4 separate regions of the Homo sapiens genome follow, and all the other regions are linked to region 3. Evidence: fine-mapped expression QTL. A gene starts in region 3. Each other region holds a variant in brackets. All regions are shown on one strand. Distances are between the middles of the regions.

Region 1 (5,254 bases), 140 kb after region 3:
CTGCCTTGGCCTCCTAAAGTGCTGGGATTACAGGCGTGAGCCACTGCACCTGGCCTGTTAATTTGTATTAATGTAAATTTTCTATTTATGGCAAGTTATATTGGCTTTATGCTAGTGACATTACATTTCTTAAATATACAGCTATCAAAATTTCAAAGGAAGTAAATTTGAAGAAAAATATTAGATGAAAACTAGTACTAGTGAAATGCAATATGGGATAAAGTTTCATATGATTTGCAAAAGACTGAGCTTTGAGAAACCCTGATTTAAGGCAACAAGATCCATTATGAAGGTATGTTTCTAGGTGGGGCTGACTTCTCCATCAGGTGCTCTAGGCATAGCACTGACAGCTGGCATGTTTCTAGGCTTAGTAGGTTAATGACAATACAGCAAGGGCCCATGAAAATGTATTAATACATTTTCTCTTTAATAGATTAAGTCAGGAAAAAAATAAATGGCAAAGAAAATCTTTTAATTATTTATCTTTATGCTGACATTTGTAAAGTGCAACTTTCTATATATATATTTTTACAGAGGAAGGGGTTCTTGAAGGCAAAAGTGCCTAAAGCCCATGAAAATCATAAGGCAGCCTATTCCTAGGCAAACCGGGAAGGAACCTCTGAGGCAATGGAATGCAAAAGGATAGAGCTCGCTCAGCTGCACCCACAGTGGGTAGGGGTGGAGATGCTGGATTTGAGCAGGAGGGCATCAGTACAATCAGAGAGCAATGCTCCATGTGTGCTTATCTGCTAAGTATGGCACAGGCTCAGGGCAGGTCAGCAGACAGGGTGCCCAGGGTTCAGTCCAGGCCCACCAGACAGCAGGGTTAGGATAGTTGGATTAGTCTCCACTTTTGTGATGACTACCTGTTGGTCAGAATTGATTGGGGAGTGGTGGTCAGAGCTGAGTCTTCAAGGTGAAGTTCTTCTGGGGACTAGGGAAAGGCAAGGTTGGGAAGGGCAGGATTTAGGGCATCCTCTATTAGGAAGACCTATTAGGACTACTTAGCACTGACATTATAGGGGTATAGAGACAAACACCTACTTGGCCTGAGTCAGGCCAATTATGATGATAAGAAACACAGAAGTGAGAACCAGAGACACACATAATGCAACCCCTAAATACAAAAAGGGACTTGGGAATGCTGGCAGATATTGCTTTTGGAAAAAAGAAGTTTATGAAAAAATTATCTAATGCACCCTGAAGGCAAAGGCTGATGGGCAACCAAGCGCAAGGCCCAGTTAAGGCTGACCCGAGACCTCTTGACAAGTTCTGGGACGACAGAGGTATAAGAACCATTTCAAGTCGAAGGAGAGTGGTTAAAGGCCAGGTATGCGGACCACTTCTATAAGATCTCATAGTTGCTCTCTTGTTGCCGAGCGAGGCGAATGACATTGATAAATCGCCCCATTATAACTGGTGATAAAAGCAGCAGGTACTTAAAGGACTGACCAATAGACATCTGAAAAGACAAATGACTGCTTGAAGATGACTGATACAAGTTGGAAATTAGCGATACCCATTGTGAGGAGAACAGGACAAAGCACGCTGGACAGAGATAATACCCCAATCTCCTGAATGCTCATTGATGTGGGTCACCTGACAGCCTTCTCGGAAAAAAGTCTTAATTACTAAAAACATATGTGAAAACACCCTGAGGACCATGATAGCTCATGCAAATGTAAGGTATTATTATGATTCAACCAACTGAAGTGTTGAAAATTAAAGCAATTTTATATACTTTCATTTGGGGCACAAGTTTTGGGGCATTCGGTTAGGACTTTTTTTTTTTACTAAATGGTCTGGATACTTACTATAGTGATGTGTAGAATCAGCATAAACAGTTTTTTTTGTTTGTATTTTTGTTTTTGAGAAGCAGTTTCACTCTCGTTGCCCAGTCTGGAGTGCAATGGCATGTTCTTGGCTCACTGCAACCTCCACCTCCTGGGTTCAAGCGATTCTCCTACCTCAGCCTCCTGAGTAGCTAGGATTACAGGTGCCTGCCACCATGCCTGGCTAATTTTTGTATTTTTAGTAGAAATGGGGTTTCACTACATTGGCCAGGCTGGTCTTGAACTCCTGACCTCAGGAGATCTGCCTGTCTTGGCCTCCCAAAGTGCTGGGATTACAGATGTGAGCCACTGCACCCAGCCAAGAATTTTATCTTTCAAAAACCTCCAACTTTTGGGGGAGACTCAGAATGACTATGCAATGAAAAAAGTCTTGCAGATAATTCTCCCCTGTGAAATTGGTCTCTTTTGTACTGTCGATTGTGGTGGTTTCTATACAGTAGCATCCAGCA[C/T]CTATTCCGCAAACCACTTCCTTCTTAAACCTCAAGGGTTTCTGCAAACCGCATTCAAATGATCTGTAGAAAGCGTTACCCTACACTTTCCATTACATCAGAGCCTTGCCGAGCGGCCCGAGAGGGATTCATCAACTGCTGCTGTGTCCCCATGTGTCTGATTAGCCACAAACACATAATGAATGTGGTTCAGCAGTGTAGGAAGCCGCAGTGGAGAACTGCAGCAAAAATTCCCGGCAATTTTTCTGGCAGCTGTCATCAGTCAACAAAACCCAAACTGACACCTTCAGTTGCCAACAGTTTTGGGTAAAACACATGCATGTTCCCAAGGTACAAGGGCCACAGGTTGAGAGTAAGGTTAAACGATAGAGTTTCTCTACTGGATGGAATGGAAGAAGATAGCAAAGTGAGCTTTTGTGATATTAATAAAGAACCTAATGGATTAATGGAAGGGACTGCTATGTAGGTTTCTGGTGAGTAACCGGTGATGCTGTGAAAGCTACGTGTGGCATCCAATAGTTAGCCCATTTTTACTTCAAGAAAACTCATCCTCGTGCTCTGCAGCAGCTGCTACTGTTTGGATTATGAATAGTTATACGCCAGATGGTGTGGCAGAAAGGACTCACACATATTTTCACATGGACAAATATTATTATTCCAAAACATAAACACGTTAATATAAGTGTTTTTTCTCCTGGGAGAAATCCAGCCCCTGATCTCAGTTATAAGAAAATGACTCAGTCTGTATATGCAAAAATTACCTGCCAAGGTTATTATTGGAAGAAACCCACACCACAGCGTTCCCCAAGTTTTCCTTTCCTTATTTGTAGTCAGCTGCATTTAATGTGATAAAGGAGAAACAGAAAGGAAGGGAGGGAGAGAAGACGGGAGGATGGAAAAGAAGGAAGAGGAAGAGAGTGAATGAAGACACGAGGTAAGGAAGGGGAAAATCACTGTCCCTCCACCCCAGAATTCTCATAATGGTGACAGCAGTGTGTTGGCCTGGGAATTATAATGCCAAATACCTGGTGACCAAAACTAGAAGGCAAAGATGGAAAAGATGGAATCAGGCCATTTAGACACATCAGTGAAAGATTCTTCTGAAGCATACTTCCAGCTCTTTCTCTGATTTTATTTGGAATGTTTCAAGGACAAAGAGTCCATCACAGTCAAGTCAATATAGTTCTCATAACAATGTATCCAGATTTCCCATTTCTAAATTTTTCTTAATTTGGTCTTGTTACTTCTTGCTGTCATTTCAATTTTTCTATATTCTTTCTTTTCTGTTTTTTGTTTTTGTTTTTTTTTTGACACAGCCTTGCTCTGTTGCATAGGCTGGAGTGTAATGGCACAATCTCTGCTCACTGCAACCTCTGCCTACCGGGTTCAAGCGATTCTTGTGCCTCAGCCTCCTGAGTAGCTGAGATTACAGGCACATGCCACCATGCCTGCCTAGTTCTTGTATTTTTAGTAGAGACAGAATTTCGCCACGTTGGCCAGGCTGGTCTGGAACTCCTGACTCAGGTGATCTGCCTGCCTCGGCCTCCCAAAGTGCTGGGATTATAGGCATGAGCCACTGCTCCTCACCTTATATTCTTTCTTTCCCCAGAAATTCCTATAATAAGCTTTTCTTCACAAGAATCTTCCACTCTTGGTGCCAGACATTTTGTAATCAATCCTAAACCCTCCTTCTTTATCTCTCTTCCTGCTAAGCCTTGGTCATTGCCTTCCAAGACTTCTTGCCTAGTTTTCCAGCCTCCCGGCAGCCCTCCTGTCTCCTAGCAGGGTAGACCAGCCCACCAGGGCTCAGGGAGGGCAGACCTGGGGTGATGTGTGCAGGAGGAGATGGAAAGGATGAGTCCAGCTGCAGTCCTTGGATGTCTTTTCGCTATGTGGGCCCTGTGGGTCAGCTCTTTTAACGTGGAACCAGCGCTGTGCCCTACTGAGAAAGGCACACTAGGAAGTTCTGTCCTTGCAGGCAATGTTAGAGTTGGCTTCCATTGTAGAGTAGTTTTTAGTGGGTCCTCTCTTTTGGCATACAATTGCAGGTTTACTACCTACAAGCGAACAATTCACCTAGCATCCTGACTTTCATTCTTTGGAGTTCAAATAACAGATAATTAAAAAAAAAACTGAATCCAGCATTTGCCTATTGCTTGACCACCCTGCTGCATGTACACCCTTCAGCTCCAGGACCACATGTGGTCAGGCTGATAAGTATAAGTGGGTGACTCGGTGGGGGCTAAGAGATAATATGGACCGGGTGAACTGGTGGATATACACCTTCAATAGCATTCAAGCTAAAATGCCTCACAGCCTTGTGCATTCCCACTGGAGAACATCTGCAGGCTGTGTCCAGCCTCAGGGCCACAAGTACACAATCCCTGCTCAGCAACCCACCACCCTTTATGTTCAAGCACATCCCCATATCTTTTATTTTTGTGGCCTCCCCTGGCAGGACCCACTCCATCTGTTCTCCTTTATTCTCAGGCTGTTTGTCTCAATGTCACTTCCACTGGTCCTGGTTCAGATCCTTGGTATCACGAACACCCTCCAGGTCTTCGACAGGCCCCAGGAGCCTTCTGGGCACCCCAGAGCAGTCTCTTCTCTAAGGAAAGCATTCTGGATTACTGCAGCTGTTCCATGGGTGATACGGTTTTGAGCTCTAGGACAGCAATTCTCAAAGTGTGCCCCGAGATCAGCAGTATCGGCATTGCCTGGCAACTTAGAAAAATGCAAATTTGGGGGTCCCACCCTAGGCCACTGAATCAGAAACTCTGGGGGGAGATGCACAGTGGTGGGCCCAGCAATCTGGGTTTTAATCGGCCTTCCAGGAGATTCCACTGCAGGGACAAGCTTGAGAATCACTGCTCTATTCAGTTGGTCCCACCCCGGATGGCAATGTACTTTGGTTTGCCTGTATCCCTCTTAAATTTCACTCCCTAAAACTAA
Region 2 (5,254 bases), 23 kb after region 3:
AAGAGAAGAGTCACAGCAGCAAGAAACGTCAGCTGAGCATGCATTTTGGAGTCAATGGTAACCCTACCCAGCCTCTGCAATTTCAGGGTCAGGGGAAGGAGTAGAAACTGGATTGCAACGGACTGAAGGATGACTGGGAGAAAAATAGGTAAACAAATGTGAAGAAGCCCAAGAAGATGGTTAAGAATGTGAAAGAGTTGAGCAAATTTATAAATTAAGCCGAAAAGAACTATGTAGAGAAGGACAGATGGAAGGTTTCTTTTTATTTTATTTTATTATTTTATTTTATTTGAGACTGAGTCTTGCTCTATTGCCCAGGCTGGAGTGCAGTGGCGCAGTCTCGGCTCAATGCAATCTCCACTTCCCGGGTTCAACTGATTCTCATGCCCTCAGCCTCCCAAGTAGCTGGGATTACAGGCACCCGCCACCATGCCTGGCTAATTGTTGTATTTTTAGTAGAGATGGAGTTTCACCATGTTGGCCAGGCTGGTCTCGAACTCCTGACCTCAAATGATCTGCTTGCCTCGGCCTCCCAAAGTGCTAGGATTACAGGCATGGGCCACTGTGCCCGGCTGAGAGATGGAAGATTTAAGAGATGCTACTGTTAGACCAAGATTCCAGAGGAGATGAATGTGGTAATATTATTATCACCATCATTTATACATATATTTTAATAAATGTATATGTATACCATTTATATATGAAAGTTAAAAATTTACACATAGAAGAAATTATCACTGTAGGAGTTTTCTCTTTTAAAGATCAAATAGACTCCTCCTTTCCTATTAACACATTTTTCTTACCCAATCATAACAACAGAATTGATCAGACCTTCTAAGTAAGGAGGTAAGGACTGCATTCTAATTACATTTCCCTGATGCTATGCCTAGACCATCTTCGATGGATTTCAGTTCAATAAATACTTACTAAGTGTCTATTTTGTGCTAAGCATTGGGAATGTGAAAATAAGTTGTAAATCCTGATTTTGATGAGCTTAGTCTAGTGAGGGAGACAGACACATAAGTAGGCTGGTATGAATGTAATCACAGTTTTTGCCATTACTTTCAAAGAGTGCAGTCAGCCAGGTGCCATGTTTGATCACCATTATATTCCTGAAGGCAGAAATGGCAGTATTTTTAAGCACAGCAATCTCAGGGGTTCCTCTGTTTCAGTAGCTCATAGGACAAAGAGCTTCATTTTGATCTTTCATGCACATACATCCATTTGCCATTACTTTTTTTTTTTTTTTTTTAAGACAGAGTTTCACTCTTGTTACCCAGGCTGGAGTGCAATGGTGCAATCTCAGCTCACTGCAACCTCTGTCTCTGGGTTCAAGAGATTCTCGTGCCTCAGCTTCCCAAGTAGGTGGGATTACAGGCATGCGCCACCACGCCAGGCTCATTTTTTGTATTTAGTAGAGATGGTGTTTCACCACATTGGCCAGGCTGGTCTTGAACTCCTGACCTCAAGTGATCTGCCTGCCTTGGCCTCACAAGGCATGGGATTACAGATGTGAGCCACCGCGCCTGGCCTGCCATTACCTTCAATGGTAAAAACCGTGATTATGTTTGCACCAACCTAATACTATCAATCCTGTGTGATAAAGGAACGCACAAGGTGCTTTATGAACAAAGAGACTGGACGGTTAGTGCAGCCTTGAGGCATTATGGAAGACTTCTTGTAAGAGGCTTCATCTGAGTTAGTAAGAAGTACTGAAGGAAGAATCAAAATTACTCAGCCATGTGGTGGCTAAACTGGACTCAGACTATGAGAACAATGGGAGCAAAGGCACAAAGACATAAAATGACATTAAGTGTTGGAGGGACTTGAAGCTCTCTGTTTTAAAAAACACAAGTGAAGTCTGGGTACGGTGGCTCACGCCTGTAATACCAACACTTTGGGAGGCTGGAGGAGGAGAATCTCTTGAGCCCAGGAGTTCCAGACCAATACAAGTGGGAGAATGGCTGAACCCAAAGCTCAAGGCAGATGGATGGTCAAACACTTTCCACCTTGTAGGCTGTAAGCGAAGGAGGTTGGACTTAAAGACCTGAAAGAACCCACCCTTTGTCTTTTGGTTCTTCCTAATGTCCTCTTTGGGATGGTAATCTTCACTTTATTTTGAAGAGCACCATGTACCAGGGACAGTCCCTTGGCTGAGTAGATGATTCCAAAGCCTGCTGTAACAGAATACACACATTAGGGAGAGAGGGAGTAAAATTTGGAACACTTCACTAATGTGAAGGTCATACCTGCCCAAAGGCCAGCCAGAAGCGGTGCCGCTATCAAGGGGGGTGGCCCATACACCAATAATGTACCTTGATATTTTCTAGCAGCAGCACCAATCAGCTCTTTTCAGAGGGTCTTGTCCAGATCTTTCCACAGGCTCTGCGATCTGAAGTAAAGTATTCTCCCTTTATCCTTAGGGGATAGATTCCCCAACCCCCAGTGAATTCCTGAAACCATGGATGGTGCTGAACCCTATAGATATTATGTTTTTTCTCATACATACATACTTATGATAAAGTTTAATTTATAACTTAGGCACAGTAATACATTAACAACTAACGATAAAATAGAACAATTATAACCATATGCCAGCATCACTGCTCTTGTACTTTGGGGCCATCATGAGGCAAAATAAGGGT[G/C]ACTTCAACAGCAGTATGGTGATAGTCAATCTGATAACTGAGTCAGCTACTAAACAACTACTGTGTAGACCACATGGGTACAATGGACAGAGGGAGGAGTCACATCCTGGGAGGGATGTTGCTGGACAGCACAAGATTTCATTATGTCCCTCAGAATGGCGTGCAATTTAAAACTTATACATCGGGCCGGGTGCGGTGGCTCATGCCTGTAATCCCAGTACTTTGGGAGGCCAAGACTTGCGGATCACCTGAGATCGGGAATTCGAGACCAGCCTGACCAACATGGAGAAACCCTGTGTCTACCAAAAATACAAAATTAGTTGGGCGTGGTGGCGCATGCCTGCAATCCCAGCTACTCGGGAGCCTGAGGCTGGGAATTGCTTGAACCCGGGAGGGGAGGTTGTGGTGAGCCGAGATCATGCCATTGCACTCCAGCCTGGGCAACAAGAGCAAAACTCCATCTCAAAAAAACAAAAAACAAAACAAAAAAACAAAAATCTTATACATATTTATTTATTGAGTTTTCCATTTAATATTTTAGGACTAAAATGTGGGTAACTAAAATTGAGGAAAAAGAAACCATGAATAAGGGAGGACTACGGTGATTCACAATCTCCCAGGTTCCTTAACTCCAAATTGAAGGGGGTAAAAAAAGATAAATGGGGCTGGGCGCGGTGGCTCACGCCTGTAATCCCAGCACTTTGGGAGGCAGAGGCGGGTGGATCATGAGGTCAGGAGATCAAGACCATCCTGGCAAAACACGGTGAAACCCCGTCTCCACTAAAAAATACAAAAGAATTAGCCGGACGTGGTGGTGGGCGCCTGTGGTCCCAGCTACTCGGGAGGCTGAGGCAGGAGAATGGCATGAACTCGGGAGGCGGAGCTTGCAGTGAGCCGAGATCGCGCCACTGCACTCCAGCCTGGGCTACAGAGCCAGACTCCGTCTCAAAAAAAAAAAAAAAAAAAAAAAAAAAAGAAGATAAATGCGGCTTCTTCCATATTCCATAACAGGAGAATGGTCAAATAAATGATGATATGATGTCTTGAAGGAATAATATCTACAGATTAAATTGTTAAAACCGTATAAAATATGTAACAGCATGGGAAAATATTCTCTGTGTGAAAAATTTTAAGAAATTAGTAGTATAGCTGGGCGTGGCGGCTCACGCCTGTAATCCCAGCACTTTGGGAGGCTGAGGCGGGCGGATCACAAGGTCAAGAGATCGAGACCATCCTGGTCAACGTGGTGAAACCCCGTCTCTATTAAAAGTATAAAAATTAGCTGAGCGTGGTGGCCGGCGCCTGTAGTCCGAGCTACTCGTGAGGCTGAGGCAGGAGAATCGCTTGAACCCGGGAGGCGGAGCTTGCAGTGAGCCAAGATCATGCCATTGCACTCCAGCCTCGGCGACAGAAAGAGACGCCGTCTCAAAAAAAAAAAAAAAAGAAATTAGTAGTATATGTGCCCACAAAAGGTGAGAAAAGAAGCTGCCAATGTTCTATGGCCATGTTTGCAGTACAGTAAGGAGCTCAATAAATATTTTTTGAACAAACAAATAAATGAATGTCAAATGAAAGCTGTTGATGCATTCAGATGATATGATTTTGAACTAAACTATCTGAAAATTTTTCTATACTGTTACTATGCTGTTTAATGATAAGCATAATGTTAATAAAGAACACTGATTATTTACTGTATACAGGTACTGCCCTGTATATTAAATATTTTGTAATGCTACCTATTCATTGCCTGGCAAAACATGCCTGCTGTTTGTCTGTTTCCAGACTCAAGCATTCATGGAGACAAATTCAATGCCAGCCAGACATAGAAGTGTTCTAAAAATTGGTCTGGTGAATGAAAGAATGAATGAATGCCTCCATGAATGACAGTGGCAGAAACTGAGGGCCACGATACTAGTGCCTTAGACCAAAAGGTCTCTGTGTGATGCATGGGGATGAATTCTCAGTCTAAGTCCTGGGCTTTTAGATTCTTTATGTAAATACTTGCTAGTATTAAAATGACTGAGTTCCTGAAGCTGAGAGACAAGGGTTCTTTTCTCAACAGTTTCAGAAAACACAACCTTTCACATAACTTATGATAGTTCCTGAATGCCTCACTGTTAAATAATGGAATGCGTTGCTAAAGGTTGAGATATTATAGCATTTCCAAAAAGGCAGCAATGCACTATGGCAAATATTTCATGAATGGAACCTGAATGGATCCAGTATCCAACAAAAGCAAGATGTTGGGAGTCCCATTAAAAATTTTTTTCCTTGGCCGGGCGCCGTGGCTCACGACTGTAATCCCAGCACTTTGGGAGGCCGAGGCAGGCGGATCACAAGGTCAGGAGATTGAGACCATCCTGGCCAACATGGTGAAACCCCGTCTCTACTAAAAATACAAAAAAATTAGCCGGATGTGGTGGCACATGCCTGTAATCCCAGCTACTCGGGAGGCTGAGGCAGGAGAATCGCTTGAGCCCAGGAGGCGGAGGTTGCGGTGAGCCGAGGTCGTGCCATTGCACTCCAGCCTTGGCAACAAGAGTGAAACTCCATCTCAAAAACAACAAAAAAAATTTTTTTCCTCAATATTTTCTCAAACCTCCTAAATA
Region 3 (5,254 bases):
AAAGGAGCAGTAAGCCATGTCTTCCTCTGAATTTTACTAAGGAACAATCTCCATGCCTGTTTACCCCAGATAAACAAGAGGAAAACATGAGCAAACACAACCTGTCTGGGACAGGCTTTACGTTCTTCCCAGCCTGATCCTGAATGATTAGCTGAAGTACATATTTTCTTTGCTCCTGCATCTGCCCTTTCAATAGCAGGTTTGAGCTTCTGAAGCCCCACCCCATCTTTTAACTCAGCCAAAGAACACTCCACTACAACTGACCCAACAGTGCTGGAATCTGTCAGGGAAGGGAAAGCAAATCTGCAGAAAATGCCACTGGCCAACCCTCTTCCCCAAAAGAACCCTCAGCCCAAGTTTCATTTAAACAGGCCCCCAATCCTCCCCGCCCCCAGCCCAACGCCCTAGAGTAAGGGATACAATGGGATATTATCAAACCAATTTCCTCAGTGACTGAAAACTTAGAACTGGATCTAGACAAGAAATAACAGGATAACTTAAAAACAGTCTATCGGGCGCGGTGGCTCACGCCTGTAATCCCAGCACTTTGGGAGGCCGAGGTGGGCAGATCACAAGGTCAGGAGTTCGAGACCAGCCTGGCTAACATGGTGAAACCCCGTCTCTACTAAAAATACAAAAATCAGCCGGGTGTGGTGTTGCGCGCCTGTAATCCCAGCTACTCAGGAGGCTGAGGCAGGAAAATTGCTTGAACTCAGGAGGCGGAGGTTGCAGTGAGCTGAGCTCGTGCCACTGCACCCCAGCCTGGGCGACGGAGCAAGACTTCGTCTCAAAAAAAAAAAAAAAAAAGAAAAGAAAAAGTTTATCACAACTTTAAAATGTCCATTAGGTTTTCTGGAACTTCAGTGAAGGATCATATTCATCTGTATACTTCAGAAAATGCAAAAACAAAACCTTTTAAATCTAAAATATATATTAGATTTAGGTATATTATATACATGTGCTATATATAGTATGTAAATATACATTGCATGCATATTTATATACATTTTTCAATACTGGAGAGTGACAAGAGCAGATAGAAATCTTTAACCAACGCTCGCTGGTTCTCTGTATAGTAAGAATCATAAATACCAATGGTCACCTGAAAATGGAGTAACTGGGCTTTTAGGATGTCCAGAAGGAAGAGACAGGAGACTTTGCAGGAAACAAATAAAACCTGAAAGACAGCTACACTTATTGAGCCTCTACTATATGCTATACAGTCTGCTGAGTACTTGATACACACATCAACCCAGCTAAATCTCAGAAACCCCAAGAAGCAAGTCTTCTTTTCTTCAATTTTCAGGTGATGAAACTGAGGATCAGAGAGGTTGAATGACTTGGCCAAGATCATGTAAACAGTCAATTGGAGAGCTGGCATTTGACCTAGTATAACTTACTTTGAAGCCCAAGAGTTTAATCACTGTGCTAAAAACTGTACACGGTTTATCATTCCCAAAGAAGAACTTTCACTCCATCTCCTCCCACTCAAAAAATATAAGATCTCAAAGCAAATCTAGAGACTTTTCTGATAATCTGCACATCTGGCCATTCCAAGTCTTTAAACTAAAGTTGTCTTTTATGTATGGATTAAGATGTCTGACTGTAATAAACCTCGCCCATCTGATTCCAGTCTACCTGCCTAACTACAGCTCCACCAAAGCAAATCTATTACTTCCCCAAGGTATTCAACCCTGAGCAGGTTAAAACTTCACCCTCCATACAGAAGAACTGCTTCCCAGAGACTATGCCAAATCCAGGGGCGCTTTTAGTCACTGGACATTTCAAAATACATGACAGCACAGATTTAGCAAAATAAGTCCTATTGTTTTAGCCCCAAACATATAAAACAAATATCCTGTAACTCCACAAATTGAAAAACTGCAAAAAAAAGTAGGCAAACATTTTGGCAGTTCTGAGTAAGGAAATGTTTGTTTTCCCTCTTGTGGTCACACAACAAATGGTGAAGAGATAAACATCAGTAACATCAGCCTTTTCCCTAATCCAGCACCAACCAAATATTTATTTACATCTACTTTTTGAAGGCCTCTTTCTCGCCTTTTCCACACCAACATGTCAGCAGGTGTCCCAGATTAAACTGTTGAATATCATACCCGATTGTTTAAAAAACACCTTTTGACGGGACCTGTGGCTGGTTATTTTTTAATTAGGGTTTGAAATCCTATACTGTGTGTATTTAGCCCCCTAAGAACTAGAGCCAGAGAAGGACGCCTCTGCGGAGTGGGTTGCCCAGTGGGTGGGCGAGAAGGGAGCCCCCGGTTTCAGAGGGGCTGCTGCGAACTGTACTTCCTGCGCCGCCCCCTCCCCAGGTAACTTACCAGGATACCCATCACGTCGGTCCAGAGTCGGGAGAACGCCTCGGATGTGCCAGCACCCGGCTTGGGCTCCGGTTCCGGCTCCGGCGCGGGCTCGGGCTCCGGCTCGGGCTCGGGCTCAGGCTCCGGCCCCGGGCCAGCTGCTCCCGCGTCCTCCATGGCCGTGTCCCGCGCGCGGGCCGTGCGTCCCAGTCCCCGCGGCGCCCTCGCCCCGCACCCGCGCGCAGCCTGCCCGGATGCCGGGTCCCCGCCCGCGGCGTCACCGAGCCGCGCCCCCGCGCTGCATGCCCCGGCGGCCCCGGCCACCCCGCGGGGGCCCTTCGCAGGCGCCCGCACCTCGGGTCTAGGTGGCCACGGGCTGCGCGACTGACAACTCCAGAAACTTTCCCACCCCGCTCGGCGCAGCAACAGGGTAGCAGGAGGCAAAGTCCGCACCACTGAGTTGTACGGCGGGGAATTCGCTCGGCCCAGAAGCAATTAAACCCACTGCAAAGGCGTTTCTTCCTGTGACGGGAACCAACTAACTAAGGCACGCGACTCGTTCCTTCTAGCAAGTCTTGGCAGGACCCGGCAGGGGTGGCCGCGGAGCCTCTAGATCTTGGAGGGAGCTCCCCGGGACCCCTCTCTTCAAAATGAGCTCTTCCAGCTCCACATGACTCTCTCCCTCGAGGCTAAAGAAAGCGTTTAGCAACAAAAGGTGCTCTGATGTCAGGCTCTTTGCATGGAAATGAGCCTCGGACAGGAGAACAAATCGCCTGTTGAAAGAGCAGCCGCGCCGCGGTCTCCGGCCCGCACAAGTTTCCAATCACGCTATTCACGGAAACGCTTTTGGTAACGGAAACCCGAGAAAGTTAATCTTTAAGCGACTCCCGCCCAAAGGCTTCACAAGTAGTCCGTGTCGCTACAATGCATACCTCGCCCCTCGTGAAGTCAAGCGACCCAAGGAATTACAAATCCTGCCTCTGCCAGCCAAGACTTCTCTGCAAAACAAGTGTGAAAGCTTGGGCACGAGCCATTGTTTGGATCATTTTTTATGAGTGGGGGCATTTTGGCTCCTGAATGCCCACAATGCCATGCATTGCTAGGGCTTTCGGCTAATTAAGGGAAATGCGCTTTGGGTTTTAATTATTCCTTTACATTAGGGACACAGGGAAGGGCTATTTTCGAAACTAAATTCAAATGATTGTGTAGCCAGTCAGCCTACACACACTTGGGGCCCTGTGTGTGTTTTTCCAAGGGGAAGCCCCAGGACAGATTTATTTTATAAGGGAACTAGCCCTGGAGAGGTGATTTTTCCCTTTTGTGATTCTATCTTTCAAGACTACTCAGAGTTTTCCTTGGAAGGTGACAATGCACGTCACATTCGATTTGGTGATTGATCACTTTTGAAACAGTTAAGAAACCACATGGAGTTTGCTCCTCTGTTAGGGCCTTGTGGTTTAAAAGGAAAAAAAAAAGTGAGATGCCCCAGGGAGAGAGCCCTGCTTGTTTTGAGGCCTCTCCTGTTTCTTGTTGATTGTGGGGTTTTTTTTGTTTGTTTGTTTGTTTTGTTTTGTTTTGTTTTGTTTTCCTTCTGAGTCCACTTGAAAGGGGATAAGAGCATGTCCTTGAATTCCCCTTGTTCAAGTATTAAGTGCTGTGAGCACCAATCAATGCAATGGGTGAATAGTCCTTACAGGAAAGTTCAAAATGTAAAAACATTTTCAAAAGTAACTAAATTTATAAACACAATCCCTGATAATTTTTGTGTGTTTTTGGCGGGTGCGGGGCTGGCGCCTGTAATCCCAGCACTTTGGGAGGCTGAGGCGGGCGAATCACTTGAGGCCAGGATTTTGAGAACAGCCTGGTCAACACAGCAAAACCCTGTCTCTACTAAAAATACAAAAAAAAAAAAAACAAAAAAAAAAAACAAAACATAGCAAGAGTGTTGGAACATGCCTGTAATCCCAGCTACTCAGGAGGCTGAGGCAGGAGAATAGCTTGAACCCAGGAGGCGAAGGTTACAGTGAGGTCCTGCTGCTGCACTCCAGCCTGGGTGACAGAGGAAGACTCTCTGTCTCCAAAGAAAAAAAAAGTATGCTGAAAAATTTTTTTAGAGACAAGGTCCTGCTCTCTCACCCCGGCAGTGCAGTGCTGCAATCGTAGCTCACTGCGGCCTTGAACTCCTGGGCTCAAGCAATCCTCCTGCCTCAACCACCTGAGTAGCAGGGACTACAGGCACACCGCTGCACCAGACTAATTTTTTAAATTTTTTATAGAGACATGATCTCTTGCTGTTGCCCAAGGTGGTCTCAAACTCCTGGACTCAAGGGATCCTCCCTCCTTGGTCTCCTCAAGTGCTGGGATTATAGGCATGAGCCACTGCGCACAGTCTCTGACGATAATGTTTGTGAAAGGAAACCAAAAGAATTATTAAATTTCTCCTTAATAGCATTGAGGCATTGTGTTGAAGTAGAAAGAGCACTGAACTATGAGTCAGTACAGCCAGGTCTTGTGCTTTCCTAGGCTGATGCCGGAGTTAGGCCAGATGGGTTTTCAAGGCTCCCTCGTGCTCTGTGATACTTTGAATAAAAATAAATTCAGTTAAGGCTGATGAGGTTTTTTTAATTGTCATTTCTATAAATAGATAAATATAAGTAAATGATAGGAAAAGATAAATAGCCTTTACAGTTGACTGTATTGGTATATTTAAGAATTTGAATTTATTCACCACGTGATACTTTTTTTTTTTTTTTTGAGACAGAGTCTTGCTCTGTCACCCTGTCGCCCAGGCTGGAGTGCAGTGGCACCATCTTGGTTCACTGCAACCTCTGCCTCCCAGGTTCAAGCGATTCTCCTGCATCAGCCTCCTGAGTAGCTGGGATTACAGGCATGCACCACCACGCCTGGCTAATTTTTGTATTTTTAGTAGAGACGGG
Region 4 (5,254 bases), 190 kb before region 3:
CGTGTGCTCTGAGAAGTAATCAAGCTTTGGCTGAGCGAAAACCTCCCAGCTGGTCAGTCACTTTTGTGCTCAGCTGTCCCAATGGCCTGCTGGAGGCTGCACCTCTCAAAAGTACTGAAAGTGGAGTCTACCCATTTTTTTGGGAAAACTGTAATTCCATTCTTGCAGACACTTGGTGCAGAATCCTCTTCAACTATCACCTAGAAACATGCCCGGAAAGGTGGCGGCGGCACAGGAGGTTTTCTTTTGTTCCCATGTCTGCACTGGGAATTTATGATTTTGTGCTGTTTGACCTTGGCATGGGAAAGAACAGGACAGAATAAGTGACTCCAGGGACCTAAGCACATACTGGCAGCGTAGGTGGGGCCTGCTGTGGCAGACCTCACAGGGAACACCTCTGTGCGTACAGGGACTTACTGTCATACTCTTGTAACAGAAAGAACAGGACAGAATAAGTGACTCCAGGGACCTAAGCACATACTGGCAGCATACGTGGGGCCTGCTGTGGCAGACCTCACAGGGAACACCTCTGTGCATACAGGGACTTACTGTCATACTCTTGTAACAGCTCCACTGCTGTCAAGAGAACAGCTCTGTGTTCCGGGTCCCTGATATTTAACTCATCCAAGTCTTCCTCCTCCAGCAGCTTAAAGGTGTCCAAATCTTCATATCCATTGAACAGGAAAGTGGGCATGTGCTCCTGTGAGAGGGAGAAGGAAGACAGAAGGGTGTCAGCCAGCCCAGACACATGATAACACCGCCAACAACTAGCCTGCAACCCACACACTGTTCCCATAGTCACCTTCAGGCTAATCAAAAGATTAGTAAGTATCATTTGCAATGGATCCTGTACATCCCAGCCCTCTGGCTTAGTAGGCAAGCAGGGTGTTTTATTAATCATGGGTTAGGAAGATGTACATTGCAGGCTGTGATGGATTCTGCTGGCTTGCACTATAATTGTACTCTTGATAAGAGCTAATTCCTTTACCTCCACAGAGCCCACAACAGAGGAGACTCCTCCTCCACTTACAGAGCTATTAAAATCCAGCTTTTAAGTCCTCAGGATCAAGAGTTTTGCAAAGAGGAAACATAATCTCTCATTGCAGACTCATGCTAGTAGATGCCTGGAGTGATGGTGGGAGAGAGGTGGGCGCAGAGTTTCCTTGTGGCCCCTGTGGAGCTAGCTGCGATCAAGGTGCCAGGAGTTTCTGCCTACAGCTCTTCCAGCAGCAAGGTTTGACCCGGGGCTTACGCTATCACCCACAGCTGAGGTCAAGGGCAGTGTTGGAAAACTGGTAACTAACTAACTCTTTCTGTAGAATAATGAATGCTCATCATAGTAACGAGCTGCCCTTATTGGACCACACAGATCAGCCCCAACCCTACCCTAAAAATGCCCTCACTTGCTTAGTGTAGGAGAGAAAAAGGCAGTGAGGTAGTAGCGTGTGACAAGAATCAGAAGCGACTGACTTTTAGGTTAATCCGATCCAGGAGATCCTCCACAGACTTGGGCTGGGGTGGTCGTCCTTTCCGACGCCTCCTGGTGGGGCGTTTGGGTTTCTCCTCGTCTTCACTGAGCACGTCCACGTAGATGAACTTGAACGTGCCGACTTTGTTGTTCAGCAGGCCCATCCAGGTCCCCATGGGTGGCTTGCTGATTATATCGATGATATCTCCTTTCTGTGGCCCAGGGAGCAAAGATCTTTCCATTAGGTACATTCCATGAACGTACAAATCAAGAATCTGTCAGATACACAGGTCATGCAGAAGTGAAGATGCCACAAAGGCCAGAATCGGGGTCCCACAAGTCACCCCTCTGAGTGACCTGCATAGGATGTGACTGTGAGCTCCGCAGAGGCCAGACAGGTGTCTCTGACTGTACGGAATTCCACGCAGGCCCCCGGTCACAGCCCCTCCACCCTCCTGCCCTGCAGAACCAGGGGTGCCTGGGGTACCCCTGGTGCTCTCAGCCAGGCTGCCCGCCCGGCACTCTGAACGCCTTCCCTCCTCAGAGGGCTCCCACTTCTTAGAGGAGGCACTTCCCACCTGTCCTAACCAGTGGCAATCCCGGCCCTGTCATGGCTGCACACACTTTGTGGAACCCCATCTGTCCCATAAAGGTACCTCTGAGCACACAGAAGGCAGAAATCTTTCTTCAGATGGAGAAAACACAGAAACCAGGTGTGTGGAGCAGGAGCCAGGTGGGGAGAGGGAGGGTGTGCAA[C/T]AGGAATTCTAGAGGGAAGCTGAGGTCAGAGGGGTGAAGTGATGCTAACCCAGGGATTAACACGAGACCCTCCCTCTGCCTCGAGGGCTGGCTGGTTCTTGTTCTGTTTTTCACTACAGAGGAGACCAGTGATCGAGGTAGCCAAGATACTGTCCAGTCTGTACCATAGTAGCCCAGCATTCAACAGTGAGGAGGAAAGAAAGCCTCCTAGAGAAATGGAAGAGCCCAGTTAGCTGCTCTGAGGCCAGGGAGAGAGATACCTTGAGCTTGAGTGAGTCTGTGTCATAGGGACTGGGGGTGAAGTCGGTGTGCACCCTGGCACGCCCGCAGAACGGGCCTCGGTAAGGCGGCTCTTCGTCATCCCCATCTTCCGACTTGACGCTTTCCCGGTTGCTGGTTGAGGAATCAGTGGTGCTCACTGTTTGACCGCCTGTACAGGAAACATAGGAAGAACACGGGTAGATCCAGATTTCCCACCCAGCAAAGCAGAAAGGTATTGAAGGTATGGCAGATTAGGAAATGAAGGCCCAGAGAAAGGAAGCCTTGAGCCACAACCCTCTGTCAGGACCAGGGCAGGGCCCAGTTATGAATTCTCCGAGTGCTATCCCTCAGCTCCTCAGTGGACAGGGGACTCACAGCAAGTTACCCTCATGACCTGGGAATCCATGTGGCACGGAGGATCCCGCGTGGAGGACACTGCAGGGCCAGGCACCAGACTCTGCTCTTAACATTCGTGACCTCTCAGTGGTAATGCACACTCTCTCTAACCATTTTACAGATGAGGAAACAAATTCAGAGCAGTCATGTCATTTGCCCAAAAGGGTAAGAAAGAGCTTAAAGTGGTAGGTTTAAACTTGATCTCGGGGCACGGTGGCTCACGCCTATAATCCCAGCACTTTAGGAGGCCGAGGTGGGCAGATCGCTTGAGTCCAGGAGTTCCACCAGCCTGGGCTACATGGCAAAACCCCGTCTCTACAACAAAATTAGCCGGGTGTGGTGGCATGACCCTGTAGTACAGCTATGCGGAAGGCTGAGGCAGGAGGATCCCTTGAGCCAGGGAGGTGAAGGTTGCAGTGAGCTGAGATCACAACACTGCACTCCAGCCTGGGAGACAGTGAGACTCCATCTCAAAAATAAAAATAAAAATAAAATAAAGTTGATCTTTTCCTTCATACCATTCAGCCAACTCCAACTACCATTGGCCCGAATTTATCAGTCACATATAAAATTCCCCTCCCTTCCCCACTCCCTTTATTTTGCTGGTCATCTTCATGTGCTTGTCTCCCTGGCTTATTCCCCCTGCTCTCTAGATCCTTCCTCTGAGATGCTTTCCCTATTGTCTCCGATCAAAATTCATCACCTCCTGTTTTGGGCTGCTGCTGCTGCATGTCTACTAATAAACAAACACGACTCTGAGTCCAGAGAGTTTATTGGTCTGATTCTCTAATAGCACCTGAAGGGCAGGACTTGGTCTTATTCACCTTGAAATTGCCTGAACCTAGTGCTCAGTATATGTCAGATATTAACTCCAAAGAAAATAATCTACAATGACAAACTCGACTTACTCATGGAGCTCTGCCCACTGAGAGAACTGCGAAGACTTTCTACAGAACCCCCGGCCTTGAGCTTGGGCTTGTCCAAGTGTTCGGGGTCGGGCTGTGAAGGCGGAGGGGAGCCAGGCATTCCATCAAGGCCCGAGTCCTGCCATGGGTTTCAACAAAATGAAGAAGTTCATCAGAGTGGACAGGTGTTGTTTTGTAATTCTCAGCGACTTGGCCTTCAACGAAATCAATCAAATCAATCTATACCTATATTTGATTCTATAACCAATATTCTCCTCCTCTTAAACTTACATCCTCGCTTACTTTTAAAGTCGTGGCCAATGTCACTATTTATTAAGCACTCAAATACTATTTCTCATTCTCGAATAGATATTCTTGGAATCTCCAAGAAAAAAAAAATCTGTCTACCACACAGACAAAATACTTAAAGGTTTAGAGACTCAGCATACGCAAAAGCCCAGTAGCAAGGCTGGACTTCAAATGTAGATCAAGTACAATCCATGATTACTAGAATACCTGGAAGTGTAGTCAGAGGATATTTAATCTACTTGGATAGGAAACATGCACTTTTAAAAAAGTGTATTCCTGGAAAAAAAAAATTGGCTAGATTCTTATATTTCTATTTGTACAAATTATTGGCATTGGATAAGGAAACATGAATTTAAAACCCACATATACAGCAAACATACTATTTTCCAGTCTACCATAAAATTTCCATATGTTACTCTAAAGTTTTAGCTTCTTTCACTTTTCTAAAGTGTTGTCAGTAAAAAGCTGGGAAATCTCTTTCACACCAGAATCCTGATGGGAGTGACTCAGCAGTACTTCCTGCATTTTGAGTAGCTAAGTATTATCCTCTCAGCGGCTCCTCATTTGCACATTTGAGTATAGCATGCTTATTTGATTCGTGGTGCTACATCAATAGACGATATCACACTTCAGAAAGTTTGCAGTGAGAATTGTTTACTTGCCAAAATAGAAAAGTCTCTGGCATATTACATATGGCCGCAGCCACACGGGCTCAAAACCAGCTAAAATGAAACCTGCTATTTGCATGCTGCCGAGTCATCAGAAGGGCCTTAACACAGCTCCGCAGGTCCTGCAAACATCTGAGGACATCAGCAACAGCAGCTTCTGATCCAACACACATTAGTGCTTTCAATGTGAGGAAAGTGAGCAAGCGACCTCAAAAACAACAAAGAAAACTAGAGCTGACATTATTAGGAAGTTACTGAAGCTCCAAAGTATGAATTCCTTAAAAAAAAAAAATTCATTCCTCCTTTCTGCGTCATAAAATAAGTAACTTTTTTCCCATTAAAATCTTCTGTAATGCTTCTGAAAAAAGCACGCAGTTTGAAAAACAGCAATAGTAAATGTGGGTCTCTGATATATTTTCAAATGCTTTAAAAAATTATTAATTTATTCATCACATGTTTATGAATTACCTACAATAACAGGCACTAATCCA

The links. PIP is the estimated chance that this variant, and not a neighbour inherited with it, causes the effect.
Region 1: its variant is the best candidate, but not a certain one, in a credible set for the expression of SASH1 in whole blood (TOPMed, PIP 0.73).
Region 2: its variant is the best candidate, but not a certain one, in a credible set for the expression of SASH1 in lung (TOPMed, PIP 0.62).
Region 4: its variant is the best candidate, but not a certain one, in a credible set for the expression of SASH1 in subcutaneous fat (GTEx, PIP 0.71).

The regions. Positions count from the first base shown.
Region 1 is chr6:148,201,309-148,206,562 of GRCh38, reverse strand. It overlaps a transcript of SASH1 not described here. Among named protein-coding and RNA genes, the nearest start is that of SASH1, 140 kb to the left of the region's middle. The variant C/T (reference allele first, on the strand shown) is at 2,303.
Region 2 is chr6:148,317,389-148,322,642 of GRCh38, reverse strand. It overlaps a transcript of SASH1 not described here. Among named protein-coding and RNA genes, the nearest start is that of SASH1, 23 kb to the left of the region's middle. The variant G/C (reference allele first, on the strand shown) is at 2,646.
Region 3 is chr6:148,340,309-148,345,562 of GRCh38, reverse strand. It overlaps SASH1 (SAM and SH3 domain containing 1), which reads right to left and starts at 2,725. Exons shown (of 20, transcript NM_015278.5): 1 at 2,340-2,725. The coding sequence starts at 2,495. RefSeq lists an enhancer at 3,499-4,078.
Region 4 is chr6:148,530,197-148,535,450 of GRCh38, reverse strand. SASH1 (SAM and SH3 domain containing 1) reads right to left here. Exons shown (of 20, transcript NM_015278.5): 13 at 3,790-3,925; 14 at 2,485-2,654; 15 at 1,471-1,680; 16 at 550-700. Among named protein-coding and RNA genes, the nearest start is that of SASH1, 190 kb to the right of the region's middle. RefSeq lists enhancers at 1,449-1,948, 1,949-2,450. The variant C/T (reference allele first, on the strand shown) is at 2,225.